Homo sapiens: one gene and its partners. The main gene of each other region encodes a partner of the protein of the gene in region 3 in a complex. Each region holds a gene or a part of one and is shown on either strand. Other genes may lie near its edges.

Region 1 (4,093 bases), on a different chromosome or scaffold from region 3:
ACAAAAAGTAAATTTAACTTGTGTTTTATGTGAGTGCTATAATTATGCTATATTAAGAATTCAAGGCTGGGCGTGGTGGCTCACACCTATAATCCCAGCACTTTGGGAGGCCAAGGTGGGCAGATCACTTGAGGCCAGGAGTTTGAGACCAGCCCGGCCAACATGGTGAAAACCCTGCCTCTACTAAAAATATAAAAATTAGCCAGGCATGGTGGCAGGTGCCTGTAATCCCAGTTACTCAGAAGGCTGGGGCAGGAGAATTGCTCAAACCTGGGAGGCAGAGGTTGCAGTGAGCCGAGATCCCGCCACCACACTCCAGCCTGGGCAACAGAGCAAGATTCTGTCTCCAAAAAAAAAAAAAAAAAAAAAAATTCCAATGACAAAATAATGTATTTACTCCTAAAGCTTAAATAAGCAATTTTTGAATGTAGACCTAAAACTACCTCCTAAATTAAACACACGCACACGCACGCTAAAGCTCTAATGAATATAATACAAAAATAACAAACCTTAACATATCTTCAATATAAATAAAAGTAGCTTAATATTGTGCAAAAATCCTAGCTCTGTCTATACATCTGGAGTACAAATAATTTAAAATGAATTTTTTCATAGCTACTGCCTTCTATTTATATTTCACCAGTGTAGATGCAAACTGAATACAAATATTGTTCAACAAAAAATTATCTTATTTCTTTTACATGTTTCTGTTATCTGATTACAGTACTTTCAGGAAAATTGTTTTTTTTTTTTTTTTTTTGAGTTGAAGTCTCACTCTGTCGCCCAGGCTGGATGGAGTGCAGTGGGGCGACCTCGGCTCACTGCAAGCTCCGCCTCCTGGGTTCACGCCATTCTCCTGCCTCAGCCTCCCCAGTAGCTGGGACCACAAGGCACCTGCCACCACGCCCAGCTAAATTTTTTTTGTATTTTTTTAGTAGAGATGGGGTTTCACCGTGTTAGCCAGGATGGTCTCGATCTCCTGACCTCATGATCCGCTTGCCTTGGCCTCCCAAAGTGCTGGGATTACAGGCCTTTTAGGGACATTTTTGTCATGAACCTTTCTTTTCAAAATACATCATTAATTCTCCAGGTTGCTTTTGATAAAAACAACCAACCAACCAACCAACCAACCAAATTATTAAGACCTCTATGTTAACCTGATGGTTTGAACTTTTAAAGACTACTACTTTTTAAAAGGTGTGTCCTCCCAGCCTCTACCTCCCACTAACTGCCTCCTAAAAAGACTGACTTAACACCAACTTTGAATTCAGCATTCAAGAACAGAGAACTTAACTACCAACCTGAATTATCTTACCTTTACTAGGTTTGTCTTCTGTTGTATTTGCTAGTAAAGGAGCAGTGAGAACATGCATACAGTGCTTGTAGAAGAAACCCAGAAATTCAGTCTTTTCTGTTTTCTAAGGAAACAAGAACAATTCCATGAACTTTAACCACACTGGTTCCTACCAGCAATACACAATATACTAGCTATGAAAAAGAGGGGAAATGCTCATGGCTTACATTGGCAGTGGCTAGCATGTTCTCTGGGTCAACTAAAGTTCGAAGCAGGCCCATAAGCTGGACTGCTCCTCCAAGTTCAGGATCTGTATCACAAATCATATGTTCTATAATGAGGTTGATGAGCAAAATATCCTGGAGAGAAAAATAGACATACTCAGGATCACTTATTATGAGAGAACGGAAAAAGCAAAAACTAAGACACATACCACAGCATTATACCTAGGCTCTAGCTGTTTTGTTAACTGCAAAGTGAAATGTTTAACTCAGTTATCTGACAGGACATATGACAGTGTTTCATTCCCTAAAGTGTGGTACAGGGACATAGCCCTAAATAGAAATTTCTTGTCTATTATCTTTAAATTCCTCTGAATAAAGCAAAAGCAAAGTTTTAGTTTGGTGATAATATATCTTTACAACTTTCTAATAATGTAATCTACCTTTTGAAGAAAGCCAGTGGGTTTTATGACCATAGCTTTAAGAGTAAGAATATTTAGGTAGGATTTAGAACATCATAATACTTTCGTTGCTTTTATTTTTATTTTATTTTTTTGAGACGGAGTTTGCCTCTTGTTGCCCAGGCTGGAGTGCAATGGCACGATCTCGTCTTACTAACCTCCACCTCCCGGGTTCAAGCGATTCTCCTGCCTCAGCCTCCCTAGTAGCTGGGATTACAGGCATGCACCACCATGCCCGGCTAATTTTGTATTTTTAGTAGAGACGGGGTTTCTCCATGATCGTCAGGCTAGTCTTGAACTCCCTACCTCAGGTGATCCGCCTGCCTCAGCCTCCCAAAGTGCTGGGATTACAGGCGTGAGCCACCGTGCCTGGTCTATTGCTTTTATTATTATAGAGTCCTTCTATTTATGGCCAGTGATGTATGTTCTCCATTTGTAAAAGTGATATAAAATTTCCTTTTAAAATAAATTTAGGAAAAAATTATCTGAATGTCTGAAATTGGAGAAAATGAGACTATGGTATTTAGAGAGTGCAGAGAACAAATGGATTATACACATTCTAAATATCAAAGAAAAGAGATGGCTGGTTTTCCTGAGGTCCTATTATGACTGGTATTCCTCACCTAAGTAGTAAATAAGATTGAGAGGGATTCAGTGAGAAAATCCCTGCTCTTGCCTATGTGTATGCAAAGGCAGGATGGACAAGGGATAGAGAAAATGCAGACAGTAGATGGAAATGATGATTAAGAAGAGTGGGAATCAAGAGTCCTAGTGACTGAAATGTTATTCTGTTGCAAAACAGGAAAAAAAAAGAGTCCTACTGTGTGTATTTTGAGGTATATCAATACATGTTCATATGTTCAGCTCATGGGTTAATGGGACCAACAATAGCCTTTATTTTCAATAATACAGATACTTTGGTTCTCAAAGAATTTTTTTTTTTTTTTGAGATGGGGTCTGGCTTCGTCACCCAGACTGGAGTGCAGTGGAGCAATCATAGCTCACTGCAGAGTCAAACTCCTGGTCTTAAGAGACTCTTCCTTCTCATCCTCCTGAGTATCTGGGACTATGGGTGCATGCCACCATATCTAAGTTTTAAAAATTAATTTTGTACTAAAGGAGGGTCTTGCTATGTTGCTGAGGCCGATGTTAATATTTTATAAAAGAAAAACATGACACAACAGTTCAAACTGGTGCTTTTTTGCACCTATCCTGCACTATAAAAATAAAAACTTAAACATAGCAGTTACATGGCATTCCATTTCCTTTTGACATCACAATACATTAAATAGGATCTTTTCAAAAAGTAAGACAGTCTATTTTCCTATTTCGTAAAAATACCACAGGCTGGAATTCTAAACAGATTTTTTTTTTTTCCTTAGGGGATCTTTATTCCCCTCCTCCCTTAAGAAGGACCTGAGAGCAGGTCCTTCTTACTCATTCTTACGTAAAAAGTTGCTTCCAAATTGTTATGGGGGAAGCAGGAAAAAATCAGAATCATTGGTTCAATTATTTTAAAATAAAGGAGAGCACACACATTTAGTGCTCTCACATGTCACGCACTATGTGATCCAGGCGCACCCTTCACATTACCAGGATATATTCTCTACTACTTTAAAATCTGGTATATCTCAGATGCTAACGTGAGTGTTTGTGAACAACGTAACAGCTTGTTCTCTATGGCTAGGCAGTAAAGAAACAGCACCCTTCATATTTTAAGGGACTGTGCTACATTTCTTCATTCTTGGCGATTTTGAGAATCTACCCTAAAGTCAATGTTTTCCTAGGTAACTTACTCTTAATTCCCCAGATACAAGAATTGATTGACTAAATGATTTAAAAAACACAATATAGCAAGTTGACTTCAGAATTAAAACAAAACAAAACAAAAAAAAACTGACATGAATATTTTAAAAGGCAATTTAAATGAACATAAATAGTTGCTGTAGGACAAATTGATAAACTGAGACAGGAACCAATTTAGGGGAACAATAAGCTGTCTGATATTATGGCTACACTTTTCCCAAACAGCAACAATTAAATCTTAAAAGTGAATAATAAAAACAGTTATAGCTTCCTATGTATAAATACTTACTATTAGTACAAATAATATTTAC
Region 2 (4,093 bases), on a different chromosome or scaffold from region 3:
TTTGGCTGTTTTTTGATATACAAGATGATATCAAACTATTTGGAGATGAGTACTTAAAACGTCTTACTCAGTTTATCAGGTTTGTACACACTGCTTTCCCTTTTTGATAAAGTACATTGCCTATAAATGTATAAATAATTGAAAGTTTCTAAAAGATAGCTTTTTAATATCCTGTCTTACTGGAACACCAAGTGGCTGGGGAAGTTATCTGATTTTTTTTGGACAGTTATTTTATCCTGGTAGAAGAGGACTTAAAATTCCCAATCCTCCACCCCATATTCGGTGTTTATGTATTCACTAAGCATGTTTTGTACTGAAATGATTGGTGTAGTTAGATTCTTATATTCAATGGAATTTGGAAAATATTTTTTATTTTATTATGTAAATAGCAGCCAGTGTTTATGCATTTAGCTTTAAGCTTTGATTTCTTTTTATCAACATGGCATATCTTTGATACTGACATTTGCAGAGTTTCTGCTACCTATTTATGGCTAAACTAAGCTTTGTCTAGTATGTGAGATTGTAACGAGAGAATGAAAATGAAAATTTAAAGAACAGCAATTTAGACTTTTCTGATGTTTTAGGATGGGTGGATTGCTTAAGATAAGCATTTCCACCGGATGTGGTGGCTCATGCCTGTATCTCAGCACTTTGGGAAACAGTGGGTCACTTGAGCTCAGGACAAAAAATTTAAGTTACCTGAGTGTGTTGGTACATGCCTATAGTCCCAGCTTCTCCAGAGGCTGAGGCAGAAGGATTGTTGGAATGTGGGAGGTTGAGGCTGCAGTGAGCCATGATGGTTGGTGCCACTGTACTGCAGCCTGAGTGACAGAGTGAGACTCTGTCTCAAAAAAAAATTTCATAGTTGTTTTTATTTTCACTGATGCATTATAGCAAGAAAGCATTAACAGAAGTAGTATGTGAAACTGTTTATGGATCAAAATCAGTGACCCCCCAGGCTGCTTAGTTTTCTTTTCAAAAGACAATTGATTTGACACTTGCTTTTAGCTTTAGAGAGGTTTTAGAATTGTAAGTATAGGCTTTTACAATGGAGGAGGTTGTAGGAAAAATGGAGGAGGCCGTAGGAAAAATTTGAACATTTTTACTTCTTAGTCTATTAAAATTACCTGTAAACATCTGATGTAGGAAGTTAGGAAAGATGCCAAGACATACTAAATTGATGTGAAGAGGGAAACTATATATGTATATAACTAAAATAATTAATCCCCAGGTGAATTGTTTCTGGCCACTTCAAAAAATTGTTTTTATGTTGGAAAGAATACACTCTTCTGAAGGTAATGTAGTTTCTGACATCATGCTAAATATATAGTATGCGCTGAATAAACAGGAACATATGGTGTGTTTCAATCATGAATTTAAACACTTGATGCATTTCAGTCATGGATTTAAAGGTATTTGATGGGTTTGAGTTGCAATTATTATCCTTTTTGACGGTCAAGTTGTCTCCCATTTGGTCAGTGGTAGCCTTTTCCAGTTGGCTCCAGAGTCCTTTTGACGTGACCTTAGTAGTTTTTGATAGTATCCTTATTCTCTGGTATAAGAATATGTTCCAAGCTCATTTCCTGCCCCAGATGTGAATCAGATATTTCTCAAGAAGACCTGCCTTTTAGTGGGAAATGGCATTTCAAGACTACAATCTTGGTGGTAGAGAAGTTTATTATTACTCAGCTACATAAAATACTAAGACTTGCAATTCAGAATGAGGAATACAGCGTTTTAAAAAGTTTTTTTTTTGTTTAGGTAAAATATACTTATATAATTTACTGGCCAGGTGCAGTGATTCATGTCTGTAATCCCAGAACTTTGAGAGGCTGAGGCAGGTGGCCCAGGGTCACTTGAGCCCAGGAGTTCGAGACCAGCCTGGGCAACATGGTGAAACCCGTCTTTACAAAAAATATAAAAAATTAGCCTAACGTGGTGGCATGCGCCTGTAGTCCCAGCTACTCCCAGCTACTTGGGAGGAGGAGGTAGGAGGATCACCTGAGCCTGGGAGGTTGAGGCTGCAGTGAGCCGTGATTGTGCCACAGCACTCCAGTCTGGGCAACAGAGTAAGACCTTGTCTCAAACACACACATGCACACTTGCACACTTATGTAATTTACCATCTTTACCATTTTAGTTTTCTTTCTTCTTTTTTTTTATTTTTTTGAGATGGAGTCTCGCCCTATGCCACACTGGATCGTAGTGGCGCGATCTCGGCTCACTTCATCCCCCACCTCCTGAGTTCAAGCGATTCTCCTGCCTCAGCCTCCTGAGTAGCTGGGACTACAGGCACACACAACTAATTATTGTGTTTTTAGTAGAGACAGGGTTTCACCATGTTGGCCAGGATGATCTCTATCTCTTGACCTCGTGATCCACCTGCCTTGGCCTCCCAAACTGCTGGGATTACAGGCGTGAACCATCGCCCCCGGCCCCATCTTTAGCATTTTAAGTGTACAGTTTGGTGGTAATAAATACATGTATATTCTTTTTTCTCCCCTTTTATCTCTCCTGTTCCTTGCTCAGTCTCTAGTAATCATCAGTCTTTAGACTCTTACCTTTGTGAGATCCACTGTTGTAGCTCCCACATATGTGAAAACGTGATGTTTGTCTTTCTGTGCTTGACTTAACTTCACTTAACATAATGGCCTATAGTTCCATCCATGTTGTTGCAAATGACAGGATCTAATTCTTTTTTATTGCTGAATAATATACCACATTTTCTTTTCCATTGATGGGAACTCAGGTTGGTTCCTTGTTTTAAAAAAATGTATTTTTGAGGCAAGGTCTTGCTGTTGCCCAGGCTTTAGTGCAGCAACTCAGTCATAGCTCACTGCAACCTCAAACTCTTAGGCTCAAGGGATCCTCTTGCCTCAGCCTCCTGAATAGCTAGGACTTACAGATAGGGTACATGCCACGATGCCTGGCTAATTTATAATTTTTTTTGTAGAGACAAAGTCTTGCTATGTTGCCTAGGCTGATCTCCAACTCCTGGCCTTAAGCAATCCTCCCAGAGTGCAAAGATTACAAAGCATGAGCCATTGCACTGAGCTGGTTTCATATTTTGGCTGTTGTGAATAGTGCTGCAGTAAACATGGGAGTGCACAGGGATTTTTCTTTTCTTTTCTTTTCTTTTCTTTTCTTTTTTTTTTTTTTTTTTTTTTTTTGAGACGGAGTCTCGCTCTGTCACCCAGGCTGGAGTGCAGTGGCGCGATCTCGGCTCGCTACAACCTCTGCCTCCTGGGTTCAAGCGATTTTCCTGCCTCAGCCTCGTGAGTAGCTGGGATTACAGGCATGCGCCACCACGCCTGGCTAATTTTTTTGTATTTTTAGTAGAGATGGGGTTTCACTGTGTTAGCCAGGATGGTCTCGATCTCCTGACCTCGTGATCCATCCACCTTGGCCTCCCAAAGTGCTGGGATTACAGGTGTGAACCACTGCGCCTGGCCCAGGGTTTTTATAACTTTTTGCATACCAGGAATCCTGGTTCTCTCAAGAACACAGGCAGGGTATGATAGAATCAGGATGTCTTGTAATTACTGATTGTAACCAACATTACACATCAGAAAGTCTAAAATAATAATGCGAATATTACTGCCACCAATATAATTACTAGGAATGTTAAATTTTTTTTTTTTTACATATTCTCTATTTCTAGCCCCCATTTAAAAGTTTTTCTGTCTCCCTTGTCTGAGCATATTGCTATTACGTAACTTTCCCTTTTGTTTTTTTTTTTTGAGACAGAGTCTCACTCTGTTGCCCAGGCTGGAGTGCAGTGGTGCGATCACAGCTCACCGCAACCTCTGCCTCTTGGGTTCAAGTGATTCTTGTGCCTCAGCCTCCTGAGTAGCTGGGGTTACTGGCACGTGCCACCATTGCCTGGCTAATTTTTGTGTTTTTAGTAGAGACGGGGTTTCGCTGTGTTGAACAGGCTGTTCTCGAACTCCTGGCCTCAAGTGATCCTCCCCCTGCCTTTGCCTCCAAAGGTGCTGGGATTACGGGCATAGTCACTGCCCCGGCTGACTTTCCCTTTTAACTGTCAATCTTAGTTTTACAGTAGGTATATATCTCATGCCTACAACCAGTCCTT
Region 3 (4,035 bases):
GGGTTATGGGAAGGGACTTTGGATTTGTTAGTGGAGATTCTTGGCCAGGGCAGAAGGACTCCTATTTGGCGAGTGATTCTGCTCACATATCTCCAGGGCTCTGTGTTAGTAACTTGATTCTGGGTACTTTGTGGGGAGTAGAGAGAGGAAGGGGCCGGGACATCTACCTGGAAGGACTTAGTTCTAGCTCTTGCCTACAGAATAGTTGGTACTCAGCATAGGACAGTGGGTATGGTTCCAGACCAGACTGACTTGGGGTGGGAGAGGAGAATTTTGGTCCTAGGAAGTAGAAGTGCAGCCAAGAGTGATAAAGCTCACTAAAGCAGCGGGTGTTTGGAGGGTAGTCCCTGGCAACTCCCACTGCTTGAGTTCCAACCCCACTCTTCCTGTTCCCCAGGTGTGCGGCGACATCCATGGACAATTCTATGACCTCAAAGAGCTGTTCAGAGTAAGAGTGTGGCCAACACTGTGAAATGTAACGGGGGGATGACTGGAAGACCCCTGTAATTGAGGGTGGGAGCCTTAATTTGGGGCGTGGAGTGGGGGCAAGGGGCCCCAAGTTAGATGGGTGGTTGTGGAAGAAGGGCCTCCGCTGGACAGAAACAGGTAGGGGGTAGGGGACTGTTTACGACAGGGCAAAACTTTCTACTTCCCCACAGGTAGGTGGCGACGTCCCTGAGACCAACTACCTCTTCATGGGGGACTTTGTGGACCGTGGCTTCTATAGCGTCGAAACGTTCCTCCTGCTGCTGGCACTTAAGGTGGCAGTCCCCGGCTTCTGCACCCCCAACCTGGGCGACCTCGGGCCGGGCCTGTCTTAGTCCGTTCCGCCCTCATCTCCTATCGTGACCAGCCCCACCTTGGAGCTGTGTCACTGGTGATGGACCGATTCTGCTTTTGGGGGTGGTCAGAGACTTGATGGGGGTTGAGGCCAGCGGGGCAGCATTCTGGGAGGGGCAGAGGCTCACTGTTGCGAATGTGGCAGGTCATTGATGCCACTGGTGGGAGAGGCAGTGTGGGGCCAGATGACAAAGGGCCTGGGTGCCTTGCTAGGGACCCGGTCTGTGTCTGGTAGGTGAAAGAAGAGCCATTAGGTTCATAGTTGAGGGAATGGGTCAGCTTTACATTCTCTGGAGGGGTCGTGTGGGCCTGGGAGGTGGCTGATGCCACACGATTCAGGCAAGAGGTGCCAGGAGTGTGCTGGGCAGTGGTTGTGAGGATGGCAGGCTGGCGGGCACGAGGAGGTCAGAGAGGGATGTGTGGAGAGACCGTCTAGGCGCCAGCCCTGGCTTGGTGGCCACCCCCAGGTTCGCTATCCTGATCGCATCACACTGATCCGGGGCAACCATGAGAGTCGCCAGATCACGCAGGTCTATGGCTTCTACGATGAGTGCCTGCGCAAGTACGGCTCGGTGACTGTGTGGCGCTACTGCACTGAGATCTTTGACTACCTCAGCCTGTCAGCCATCATCGATGGCAAGGTAAGCCAGCCCAGGGCTCCATGGGACAGGGAGAGGAGGGGGGCTTCAGGCCTCAGCCCCGTCCTCTTTCCCTGCTCTCCCCTGTAGATCTTCTGCGTGCACGGGGGCCTCTCCCCCTCCATCCAGACCCTGGATCAGATTCGGACAATCGACCGAAAGCAAGAGGTGCCTCATGATGGGCCCATGTGTGACCTCCTCTGGTCTGACCCAGAAGGTGAGGGCATGTGGGCAGGGGCAGGCAGGGACAGCCAGGAGGGGTTGGGAAAGAGAGGGAGCAGGGCTGGTCTTCACTGTCACTCGTCCTCCACCTGCCAAATGGCTGGAACCCTGGAGGAGGAGCAGGGAGGCCTGCATGGCAGGTGCTTTGAGCACACAGTGGCTTGGGGCATGGCCCAGAGGGCTGTGGAGGACAACCAAGTCATGGCTCCCTGAAGTGAAGGGGCCTTAGAACATGACAGCAGCTTCTTCAGAGGTCAGAACCCCAGAATGGTAGCCCCCTGAGACCCCTCATTTTGTGGGTTTTCCACTAGTGTAGAGCAGAGCTGAGATTTAAAGTCAGGTCTTCTGAGGACCAGCCAGAGTTCCTGTTGTCACAGGCACACACGCACAGGCAGCCTCTGCTCCAGCGCAGACACACACACACATACACATAGCCTCTGCTCCATCACAGCCACACACACGCACACGAGGCCTCTGCTCCATCACAGCCACACACATACAGACACACACATGCAGACACACACATGCAGCCGCTGCTCCACAGTCACTCCGGACCTCCCTGTGACAACACAGGGTGCCCTTCTGTCTCTGGGAGTGCCCCTTTCACTCTTATGTGCTGTTTGGACGGGGATTGTATGATCACTGTGATTATGAGGGGGCCCCAGGCATTGGGCGTTCTTTCTCCTCTGGAGCTTATCTGCCCCTACATTTGCTGTCCTGGTCCCCGCCATCCCACAGACCATATTCAGGCCCCATGCTCTGGTCCCACGGGCCTCTGGTGGACTTGGGGAGGGGCCAGGCTGCTCACCCTCAAGGGGCAGCGCTGGCAGCCAGAGAAGCCTGAGGACATCCCTCTCCATCCCTCCCTTTCCGCATCAGACACCACAGGCTGGGGCGTGAGCCCCCGAGGAGCCGGCTACCTATTTGGCAGTGACGTGGTGGCCCAGTTCAACGCAGCCAATGACATTGACATGATCTGCCGTGCCCACCAACTGGTGATGGAAGGTTACAAGTGGCACTTCAATGAGACGGTGCTCACTGTGTGGTCGGCACCCAACTACTGCTACCGGTGAGCCGGCTGGGCCGGGCTGGGATGGGCGGGCATCTGAGCCGAGCTGCTCCTGACCCTGCTGCCCCGCCTTCCAGCTGTGGGAATGTGGCAGCCATCTTGGAGCTGGACGAGCATCTCCAGAAAGATTTCATCATCTTTGAGGCTGCTCCCCAAGAGACACGGGGCATCCCCTCCAAGAAGCCCGTGGCCGACTACTTCCTGTGACCCCGCCCGGCCCCTGCCCCCTCCAACCCTTCTGGCCCTCGCACCACTGTGACTCTGCCATCTTCCTCAGACGGAGGCTGGGCGTGGGGGGGGCTGTCCTGGCTCTGCTGTCCCCCAAGAGGGTGCTTCGAGGGTGAGGACTTCTCTGGAGAGGCCTGGAGACCTAGCTCCATGTTCCTCCTCCTCTCTCCCCACTTGAACCATGAAGTTTCCAATAATTTTTTTTTCTTTTTTTCCTTCTTTTTTCTGTTTGTTTTTAGATAAAAATTTTGAGAAAAAAAATGAAAAAATTCTAATAAAAGAAGAAAAATGGTTTTTGGGTTTGTGCCAGACTTGGTTGGGAATGCACAGGGTTGCTGGCCTGGGACCTGGGGTGGACGTCAGGGCCTTGACTGCCTCAGGGCCCCGACCTGCCAAGAGGGCCAGGCTCAGGCCAGTCAGCTTGCCCAGGGCCTCCAGGGGCCGCTGCCTGCTGGCTTCCCCAGCCCTAGGGAGAGGGCTCTGTTCTCATGGGCAGCCTTATCTTATTAACAGCATACACACACAGGCACACACAGAATCACAGGATTCTGATTTCTCCATTTTCCTGAAGAGGAGATGGGCCTAGAGGGCCAGTGGATTTTGTGCTAGGTCAGGCAGCTGGAAACACAGGTCTAGATCTGGGCCTGGGTCTCCTAGCAAAGCCTTTGCTCACCCAGCCCCGCCCAGGGCCAAACACAGGAGCCCAATGTTTCCTGAGCATGGATGGCTTTTGAGTTTTATTAACAAAAATACTCTGGTCCCAGAACAACAGACTGGTGTGGCCTGCACCAGTGTGTGTGGGGGGGTGGGGATTGAGCCCCTCCAGAGCCCATGGGGAGGCCTGGTAAGTGGGGATGCTGGTCTGTGGCCCCATTTGGCCAGGCAGAGCCCCTTCCATTCACACGGAGGTGAGAGCCGGGAAGGGGAAGCCGGCCCCAGCTGGACTCCCAGCAGCCTTGGTTAGGCTTTGAAGCCAGAGGGGGGTGGGAGTGAAATCAAGGTGTGAAGTTGAGGGGGTGGGTGGGCAGGCCCAAGGCG
Region 4 (4,093 bases), on a different chromosome or scaffold from region 3:
ATTCTGGCCCTGCCATTTATTCTCTTTATAATCTGAGCAAGTTAACTTTTTCTCAGCTTTCTACCTTTAAAATGTTGATGGATTTTTGGATCATCTGCAGTTTTTTTGCTGTTACAAATAAAGCTGCTATGAACATTCACACACAAGTCTGTGTGAATATATATGTTCTTTCTCTTGGGTATACATCTAGAAGTAGAATGGCTGTTTAACTTTTTAAGAAACTGCCAGCCCGGTGCGGTGGCTTATGCCTGTAATCCCAGCACTTTGGGAGAACGAGGCGGGTGGATCACCCGAGATCAGGAGTTCAAGACCAGCCTGGCCAACATGGTGAAACCCCGTCTCTATTAAAAATACAAAGAATTAGCTGGGCGTGGTGGTGCATGCCTGTAATCCTAGCTACTCGGGAGGCTGAGGCAGGAGAATCACTTGAACCTGGGAGGCAGAGGTTGCAGTGAGCCGAGATTGCATCATTGCACTCCAGCCTGGGCAACGAGCGAAACTCCATCCAAAAAAAAAAAAAAAAAAAGAAAGAAAGAAAAACTGCCAAACTGTTTTCCAAAGTGGTTATATCATTTTCCATTCCCACCAAAAGTGTATGAGAGTTCCAGGTCCTCATCATCATTGTCAACACTTAGTGTGAGCAGTCTTAATTTTAGCCACTCTTATTAAATGTATAATAGTATTAATTTGTGGCTTGAATTTGCATTAATGGCTAATTATGTTACTCTTTTTATGTGCTCATTTGCCATCTAACTTATCTCCTTTGGTGAAGTGCCTTTTCACATCTTTTGCTCATCTTTTCATTGGGACATTTTCTTATTAAATTTTGAGAGTTCGTTATATATTACAGATACTTAAGACATATACAAAGGCAGATGGACCATCATGTCTCTACTACTCGGTTTTGACTTTCATTTATCCATGTTTCTGTTTTTGTTTTTTTTTTTTTGAGACAGGGTCTGGCTCTGTTGCCCAGGCTGGAGTGTAATGGCACTATCTTGGCTCACTGCAACGTCTGCTTCCCGGACTCAAGTAATCCTCCCACCTCAGCTTACCAAGTAGCTGGGACCACAGGCCTGCACCACCACGCCTGGCTAATTTTTTTGTATTTTTGGTAGAGATGGGGTTTTGCCATGTTGTCTAGGCTGGCCTTGAGCTCCTGAGCTCAAGCAATCCACCTGTCTTGGCCTCCCAAAGTGCTGGAATTACAGGTGTGAGCCACTGCACCCAGCCTGATGTAGATCACTTTTATATTTAAATCTATGAAATTCATTTTTGATAGAAATAACTCATTTATTCAATACTTCATTTATTTAAGATTGGTGGCAATTTGGACCTGAGTTAGTTCAAATTTTGTATTTGGATTACCTGTGGGAAAAAAGGTTACTACCAAAGTAATTGCGTTAAGAGTGCAAAGAAAATTTTTACTCACTGAAGGGAACAAATATCTATAATATTTGGGAGATCCACAAGTGTATGTCAGAGCAAGTGCTTTGTTATACTACCTTTCTGTTAAATACTGTTTGTATACATAATCTTGGTAACTAACTTGAAACTAGATAAACATGCCACTACTGTATTATATAAATAGAAATACATTATACATATGGTGTATATATATAAATATAAATACATATATGAATATACATATAGTATACTTCAGCAAATTATTCTTGCCTTAAATTCAGTTGTGCTATAGGACAATTTTGCATTTCTAAGGATTTAGTAAGCTTTTAGTATTGATATTTGAAGGAAGGGTTTCTGATAAACATTATTTATATTATTGCAAAGTACAAAATTAAAGTTTGACATACCTGTTGCTGGAGACTATAAAGATTATGTTGTATGGTCCCTGTAAAAGGCCAAATATTAAATAGTTTAGGTTTTGTGGACCATATGATCTTTGTTGCAGCTACTCAGATCTGCTGTTGTAAGGTAAAAGCAGCCATGACAATACAGAAATGAATGAAAGTAAGTGTCATCCAATAAAATTTTATTTACGAAAACAGAAGGTGGGCCAGTTTGGCTCGCTGGCTGTAGTTGGCCAACCCCTTCACTGTGCTATAAAATCCAAGGTCTGTAACATTTTTATTCTTGACTCATCACACAGTGTTCAGCAATACATCTCATCAGTGCTTAATGTAGAATAAGTATTGAATGAATCTTGATGTTTCACACCAAGCTAAATAAGACCGTAAACCTAATTTGGGGTCAAATAATGAAATTATTTTTAATTAAACTTGTTATTTTGAAAACTTTCAGACCTATACAAAAGCTGCACAGATATTGTAATGAATTCCCAACTCTTCACCTGAATTAAGCTGTTAACATTTTGCCAGTTTGCTCGTTACTTCTCTATACAGTTATGTACACACACACAATGTAATGTAATTTTTTGGTGTACCTTTGAAAATAGGTTGTGGTCATTGGGACCTTTAGCCTGTGTCTCCTAAGAACAAGGGCACTTTTACAATCATAGTAATGAAATTTGGGAAATTTAACATTGCTACAATCCTGTTATATAGTATGTAGTACATATTGAAATATCCCCAGTAATGTCCTTATGGCAACTGTCTTTTGCTGTAAGGACATTACTTACAAACTTACTAGTTTGGAACAATTTCTCAGCCTTTAGCATTCATGAAATTGACATTTTTGAAGAGTCCATTTGGTTTTATCTGTTTCCTCATGATTTGATTCAGGTTATTCTTTCCTTTTTTTTTTTTTTTTTTTTTTTTTTTTTGACAGGACTGCTACATAAGTGATAGTGTAGTTTTCTCAGTGCTTCAGATTAAGGAGCACCTGATAGCAGTGTCCATTACTGGTAGTGTGGAGGTGATGTCTATCAAATTGCTCCACTGTAAAGATTCTGTTTTTCCTATTGTAATTAGTAAGGAAATAGTTTGACAATGGGGAAATACCCTGTTTCCAAACATTTACCCATTTAGTGTTAGAATGTGTTGATGATTCTTGCCTGAATTAATTGCATTTACTAGCTGACATTCTGCTTTATAGAAGAGCCTGATCTTCCTCCCTATTCATTTGTTGGTATATTTATTTGTTAAAATATAATTTTAAAGCCCCAAATCTTTATAAGGTAACTCATTCTGTGGTGTATCTCATTGTCTTTCATTTTCTAAAATGTAAAGATGGGAAACAAAATGTGGCCGATTTATTGTGGCCTGAGCAGTATCTAGGGAAAAACTGAAGGGAAGGATAGACTATGAGCTTTTTTATGTTTTACGTTACATTATTAGAGATTATGTAGAGAATAGAAGGGTGTTTTGATCAATTTTGATAAAAGTTTGTACGAATTAAAAAGTTCTCTTTGGTGTGATACTTCTCAAGGTATTAATATGCTAATGTGCTTGTGAATATCTTAGAGAAGGATAAAGTATAGTAAACTCTTGACTTATCAATTATCCCTATGGACTACATTTTCATTAACAAATATTAATGAATGTGCCTCCATGAGAAGCATTGGACTCTGTTTTTTAGATAATGAAAAGTTTAGCAAGACAATCTTTAGGGAATTTATATATGTTGGGGAGGGAGAGGAGAAGGGAAGGTAGGAGAATATGAAAAAAAGGAAAAATACTTTGCAATTATTGGTGGAGTAAAAGCAAGGGCACCCAAGACGGCAGGGAATTAAAAGGAAGAACTCTTAATTAGAAAATAGAAAATGCCTCCTGGGTGTTGTTAGTAATAGGTAAATTTAAGCTGAGATGAGGTTAGAGAGGACAGAAATGGAACAGATGAAACCACATAAGACAGAAAAGTAGTGGGGCATGTTGCAGCAAATTGACTCCACATGGGCTGTGTACAGAGGAGGAAACTAGGTTGGGGCCAGATCCTGGACACCCTTGAATTACAGCATGAGAAAGAAAGTTGTACCTTAATTCAGACTGCCTGGGAGGCTTATCAGGGGGTGGAATGGTAGGGATTGGGAGGGAGGGCGTGCAAGGGCATCTATTGAACAGAGTGGGAAGATTGAAGTGGTGCTGATATATAAACTGGATTCGAATGAGGGGAGGCTGGGAGTAGATGGATCCAGGCAATTATGTTAATAACAGTCTAGGACCGTGGTCTTTAA

The links.
Region 1: PPP4C (region 3) and PPP4R3A share a complex: the UniProt entries of both Homo sapiens proteins name them as parts of the PP4 complex.
Region 2: PPP4C (region 3) and PPP4R2 share a complex: the UniProt entries of both Homo sapiens proteins name them as parts of the PP4 complex.
Region 4: PPP4C (region 3) and PPP4R1 share a complex: the UniProt entries of both Homo sapiens proteins name them as parts of the PP4 complex.

The regions. Positions count from the first base shown.
Region 1 is NC_000014.9:91,471,718-91,475,810, forward strand, and holds part of PPP4R3A (serine/threonine-protein phosphatase 4 regulatory subunit 3A), read right to left. Parts: intron 1,654-4,093; coding exon 1,522-1,653; intron 1,419-1,521; coding exon 1,316-1,418; intron 1-1,315. UniProt on the Homo sapiens protein: Regulatory subunit of serine/threonine-protein phosphatase 4. May regulate the activity of PPP4C at centrosomal microtubule organizing centers.
Region 2 is NC_000003.12:72,999,490-73,003,582, forward strand, and holds part of PPP4R2 (serine/threonine-protein phosphatase 4 regulatory subunit 2), read left to right. Parts: intron 1-4,093. UniProt on the Homo sapiens protein: Regulatory subunit of serine/threonine-protein phosphatase 4 (PP4). May regulate the activity of PPP4C at centrosomal microtubule organizing centers.
Region 3 is NC_000016.10:30,082,087-30,086,121, forward strand, and holds the end of PPP4C (serine/threonine-protein phosphatase 4 catalytic subunit), read left to right. Parts: intron 1-397; coding exon 398-448; intron 449-659; coding exon 660-761; intron 762-1,307; coding exon 1,308-1,481; intron 1,482-1,568; coding exon 1,569-1,695; intron 1,696-2,579; coding exon 2,580-2,769; intron 2,770-2,846; coding exon 2,847-2,976; 3' UTR 2,977-3,290; downstream 3,291-4,035. UniProt on the Homo sapiens protein: Protein phosphatase that is involved in many processes such as microtubule organization at centrosomes, maturation of spliceosomal snRNPs, apoptosis, DNA repair, tumor necrosis factor (TNF)-alpha signaling, activation of c-Jun N-terminal kinase MAPK8, regulation of histone acetylation, DNA damage checkpoint signaling, NF-kappa-B activation and cell migration.
Region 4 is NC_000018.10:9,604,217-9,608,309, reverse strand, and holds part of PPP4R1 (serine/threonine-protein phosphatase 4 regulatory subunit 1), read left to right. Parts: intron 1-4,093. UniProt on the Homo sapiens protein: Regulatory subunit of serine/threonine-protein phosphatase 4. May play a role in regulation of cell division in renal glomeruli. The PPP4C-PPP4R1 PP4 complex may play a role in dephosphorylation and regulation of HDAC3.